2 separate regions of the Homo sapiens genome follow, and region 2 is linked to region 1. The links come from fine-mapping of genetic effects on gene expression. A gene starts in region 1. The other region holds a variant in brackets. All regions are shown on one strand. Distances are between the middles of the regions. Region 1 holds the start of WASHC3 (WASH complex subunit 3). Region 2 overlaps LINC02456 (long intergenic non-protein coding RNA 2456).

Region 1 (2,785 bases):
TGATTGTGGGCCACCACTTCATTTGCATGAGGAGAACACCAGTGTCCAATGGGAAATCTCTAGTGGGTATTTGGACCTAAGAAGATTCTGTATCCAGTACACTGTGGAGCGTACTTTGGTTTTCAATGAATCTTTGCTTTTGTTGGTTCATTCTCTCCTTGATTTGTGCGTTTTGTCCAATTCTTTGTTCAAAAGAACCTGGACACCCTCCACCAGTAACACTCTTACCTCATTTCCTACCATTCTCCATTTATGGGATTATTTGCTTCAACCAAACCAACAGGCCAGGTGCCAGTGGCTCACACCTATAATCCCAGCACTTAGGGAGGCCAAGGCATGAGGATCATTTGAGCCAAAGGGTTTGAGACTAAGGTGAGCTATGATCCTCACTGCACGCCAGACTGGGTAACAAAGCGAGACCCCCCATCTTTAAAACAAAACTGCCCACTGCAGTCTTGGTCTTCATCTTTTTGATGCTCCCTGTAAGTGGCAGTCACTTCCGTAGGTTTGTGCCTCACATCTAGTAGTTGACATTTTATTTCATGTTTTAAAAACCTTTGGAAGACCAGGCGCGTTGGCTCACGCCTGTAATCCCAGCACTCTGTGAGGCTGAGGCAGGAGAATCGTGTGAGGCTGAGGCAGGAGAATCGCTTGAGGCCAGGAGTTCGAGACCAGCCTGGGGAAATAGCGAGAACTTGTGTGTATACACACACACACGCTTTGGAAGTAGGTCTTATTTCTCATTCTTCAGGGCATAAACCTCTCCCGTGCAGCAATCAAACTCAATCTTTGTTTTCCCAGTAAAAGCCTAGCAGAGTATATGGCACTTAGGATTAACAACAACAAAAAAAAAATTGTTGCTCAAGGAATGACGGAGTTATTATATAACAGACAGGACTAAGTAGGGATAACCTCAAAAGGACGCAACTTCTGGCTTTGTTTTTTTGTTTTGTTTTGTTGCCTCCTTTCTAAGATTTCAGTGCTCTAACTGCATCCTTGCACCACCGCGCGCCACCCCGAAATTGACGTCACAATCTGGACTAAAACTACCAATCCCAGAATGCCGAGCGAGGAGGCGGGCTCTCCGGAAGCCGCCGAGTGATTAGTGAGCGGAGAAGCTTTCTTCCGGCGGGAAGGGCCCCGGAGGCGGGCACTTGGGGGGAAAGTTGAGACGTGATTACCGGGTTGGGCGGGCCCCATCTGGGAGGGGTTTGTGGGTGAACTCGGGGTCCACCGCCCGCTGAGGAGATGGATGAGGACGGGCTTCCTCTCATGGGGTCAGGCATAGACCTGACCAAGGTTTGTAAAAGACGGTGCTAGACTCCCGACGAGCCGGGAGGAGGATGGGGAAGACGCAGCTTTCCGGGGAGACACCCACCTTCCGAGTCCCCACCCTGTCACGGCCTCGGGCCCTTGTGACAGGCCTGTGGGGCCTCAGGAGGGAGAGCCCCACAGTCCACCTTGAAATGGGGTCCCTCCTGAGCTGATTAAGGAGACGGTGTGCATCTCCCAACTGTCGCTTCCCATCTCGCTTGTCTCTCTGCCGCCGGCGACACACGCCGGTTGCGATAGCTAGCCCTACCTCTTATTCAGCCCCCAAGATTTTGTGTGTGTTTATGTGTGGTGCTTTTTGCCTGCCAAAATTCGTACCAGTGAGTCTAGAGCCTGTTCTCAAACTTTTGTGCACCTCTGTCATCTTCGGACACCCCACCCACAGCTTAGGAAACAAGTTAATGACTATTCCCAGTCCTTCAAGAAATTCATATCACACAGCAAAGTGCCTCGTGATTATGTCCAAATATGAAAAGATTTGCACTGTGTACGTTCCTCCTGTATGAACCATGTTTGTTTTTACGTAACACAGGTGCCAGCTATTCAACAGAAAAGAACGGTGGCTTTTCTAAACCAATTTGTGGTGCACACTGTACAGTTCCTCAACCGCTTTTCTACAGTTTGTGAGGAGGTAGGTCCGGTGATACTGGTTTATAGAGTCGCCTGGAAATCACCTTTCACTGCTGAGACTGACAAATGGAGTAAAACAAGAATTACAGTCTTTATTCATGTACCGTGACCTCTCATCACCCAATTGTGTTAACACATCTTAGGTTCTCTTTTACTCTGTTAAAATCAATCCTGCACCCCTCCTCTACTGAGTTAGTGTTCTAGAGGTCCCTGTGAGATAGGTCAGTCAGGCTTATTGCGATTAAAGGGAACAATAGGAAATCTAATTTTTTTTTTTTTTTTTTTTTTTTTTGTGAGACAGGGTCTCACTCTGTCACCCAAGCTACAGTGCAGTGGCGCGATCTCGGCTCACTGCAACCTCCACCTCCCGGGTTCAAGCGATTCTCCTGCCTCAGCCTCCTGAGTAGCTGGGATTACAGGCATGCGCCACCATGCCTGGCTAATTTTTTATATTTAGTAGAAACGGGGTTCCAACATGTTGATCAAGCTGGTCTCGAATTCCTGACCTTGGGCGATCCACTAGCCTCGGCCTCCCAAAGTGCTGGGATTACAGGCGTGAGCCACCGCGCCCGGCTTCTAAAATTTCACAGTTGAAAACAGTTTTTATTTTGCAATTTGTCATTCGTTCCCGTACCCCAAAACCACATTGTTTAAATTTATTTTACATTCTGGATCTAAAAGATGGCTAGAGGAGATAGCCTAGAAACATAACTTTGGCATCAAATATGATTATAGAAATGAAAATATTTTCTGCAAATGACTTGTGATGTAAGGATTAAGTACCCAACTAGGGATTAGGTACCAGAACTGGCACAGCAGTGCG
Region 2 (2,785 bases), 250 kb before region 1:
ATTTTATAAATCTATTGTTTTAATTAGTTTGACCATAAGGTAAGATTTTCATAAACCTTTTATAACCCTTTACAACTTTTTTTCTCAGAGCAGAACAATGTTCTAAGAAAACTCTGTTGTTCTTCTATTCCAATGTCCAATTTATAGAAAAAAAATGAATAATGCCATTTTAACTTTAGCCAATACATTCACACATAGAATCTCTTGTAATTAATTTTTATAAACCATTCACAACTTGTTCTAACCTTTAGCTTTTTAATTCAAAATAAATCTTTAACCCTCTAACCTAGACAAAAATTTACATTCCCATACTTTCTTATAATCTCTCACAAAAACACATTTTATTCCCTTTACAAACCTTGTATGTAAACTTATTTTTTCAGTAGTCTCAATTACATATTAAAATGTTAACTCTTAGCATCTTTTACTTTTGGTGAAAACCTTGGTAAGGGATTTTAATTATGTACTAGGTGTGGAGCCTACGACCCAAACAGAAATGCAGATAAGATCTGAGCCTTTCCAGTGTCTAACTCCATGTGTCCCAGGCCTTACCCAGCTGTAGAGTAGGCAAGCTGTACAGTTAAGAGTCATAGTGGCATTTTATGAAGCATTTAGGAAGCCTAATCACCTTTAAATTGTAAAACGGGGGAAGAGCCAAGATGGCCGAATAGGAACAGCTCCAGTCTACAGCTCCCAGCATGAGCGACGCAGAAGACGGGTGATTTCTGCATTTCCATCTGAGGTACAGGGTTCATCTCACTAGGGAGTGCCAGACAGTGGTCGCAGGTCAGTGGGTGCACGCACCGTGCGCGAGCCGAAGCAGGGTGACGCATTGCCTCACTTGGGAAGCGCAAGGGGTCAGGGAGTTCCCTTTCCGAGTCAAAGAAAGGGGTGACGGACGCACCTGGAAAATCGGGCCACTTCCACCCGAATACTGCGCTTTTCCGACGGGCTTAAAAAACGGCGCACCACGAGATTATATCCGGCACCTGGCTTGGAGGGTCCTACGCCCACGGAGTCTCACTGATTGATAGCACAGCAGTCTGAGATCAAACTGCAAGGCGGCAGCGAGGCTGGGGGAGGGGCGC[C/T]CGCCATTGCCCAGGCTTGCTTAGGAAGCTCCAACTGGGTGGAGCCCACCACAGCTCAAGGAGGCCTGCCTGCCTCTGTAGGCTCCACCTCTGGGGGCAGGGCACAGACAAACAAAAAGACAGCAGTAACCTCTGCAGACTTAAATGTCCCTGTCTGACAGCTTTGAAGAGAGCAGTGGTTCTCCCAGCACGCAGCTGGAGATCTGAGAACGGGCAGACTGCCTCCTCAAGTGGGTCCCTGACCCCTGACCCCCAAGCAGCCTAACTGGGAGGCACCCCCCAGCAGGGGCACACTGACACCTCACAGGGCAGGGTATTCCAACAGACCTGCAGCTGAGGGTCCTGTCTGTTAGAAGGAAAACTAACAAACAGAAAGGACATCCACACCAAAAATCCATCTGTACATCACCATCATCAAAGACCAAAAGTAGATAAAACCACAAAGATGGGGAAAAAACAGAAAAGAAAAACTGGAAACTCTAAAAAGCAGAGCGCCTCTCCTCCTCCAAAGAAACGCAGTTCCTCACCAGCAACAGAACAAAGCTGGATGGAGAATGACTTTGACGAGCTGAGAGAAGAAGTCTTCAGACGATCAAATTACTCTGAGCTACGGGAGGACATTCAAACCAAAGGCAAAGAAGTTGAAAACTTTGAAAAAAATTTAGAAGAATGTATAACTAGAATAACCAATACAGAGAAGTGCTTAAAGGAGCTGATGGAGCTGAAAACCAAGGCTCGAGAACTACGTGAAGAATGCAGAAGCCTCAGGAGCTGATGCAATCAACTGGAAGAAAGGGTATCAGTAATGGAAGATGAAATGAATGAAATGAAGCAATAAGGGAAGTTTAGAGAAAAAAGAAAAGAAAAGAGCAAAGCCTCCAAGAAATATGGGACTATGTGAAAAGACCAAATCTACGTCTGATTGGTGTACCTGAAAGTGATGGGGAGAATGGAACCAAGTTGGAAAACACTCTGCAGGATATTATCCAAGAGAACTTCCCCAATCTAGCAAGGCAGGCCAACGTTCAGATTCAGGAAATACAGAGAACGCCACAAAGATACTCCTCAAGAAGAGCAACTCCAAGACACATAATTGTCAGATTCACCAAAGTTGAAATGAAGGAAAAAATGTTAAGGGCGGCCAGAGAGAAAGGTCTGGTTACCCTCAAAGGGAAGCCCATCAGACTAACAGTGGATATCTCGGCAGAAACCCTACAAGCCAGAAGAGAGTGGGGGCCAATATTCAACATTCTTAAAGAAAAGAATTTTCAACCCAGAATTTCATATCCAGCCAAAATAAGCTTCATAAGCGAAGGAGAAATAAAATACTTTACAGACAAGCAAATGCTGAGAGATTTTGTCACCACCAGGCCTGCCCTAAAAGAGCTCCTGAAGGAAGCACTAAACATGGAAAGGAACAACTGGTACCACCCGCTGCAAAATAATGCCAAAATGTAAAGACCATCGAGACTAGGAAGAAACTGCATCAACTAACGAGCAAAATAACCAGCTAACATCATAATGACAGGATCAAATTCACACATAACAATATTAACTTTAAATGTAAATGGACTAAATGCTCCAATTAAAAGACACAGACAGGCAAATTGGATAAAGAGTCAAGACCCATCAGTGTGCTATATTCAGGAAACCCATCTCACGTGCAGAGACACACATAGGCTCAAAATAAAAGGATG

The links. PIP is the estimated chance that this variant, and not a neighbour inherited with it, causes the effect.
Region 2: its variant is the best candidate, but not a certain one, in a credible set for the expression of WASHC3 in whole blood (INTERVAL, PIP 0.78).

What each region holds. Positions count from the first base shown.
Region 1 is chr12:102,060,426-102,063,210 of GRCh38, reverse strand. It overlaps WASHC3 (WASH complex subunit 3), which reads left to right and starts at 1,220. Exons shown (of 7, transcript NM_016053.4): 1 at 1,220-1,299; 2 at 1,865-1,963. The coding sequence starts at 1,249. RefSeq lists enhancers at 1,302-1,501, 1,512-1,561.
Region 2 is chr12:102,311,628-102,314,412 of GRCh38, reverse strand. All of the region lies in intron 4 of LINC02456 (long intergenic non-protein coding RNA 2456), which reads right to left. Among named protein-coding and RNA genes, the nearest start is that of LINC02456, 33 kb to the right of the region's middle. RefSeq lists an enhancer at 976-1,511. The variant C/T (reference allele first, on the strand shown) is at 1,089.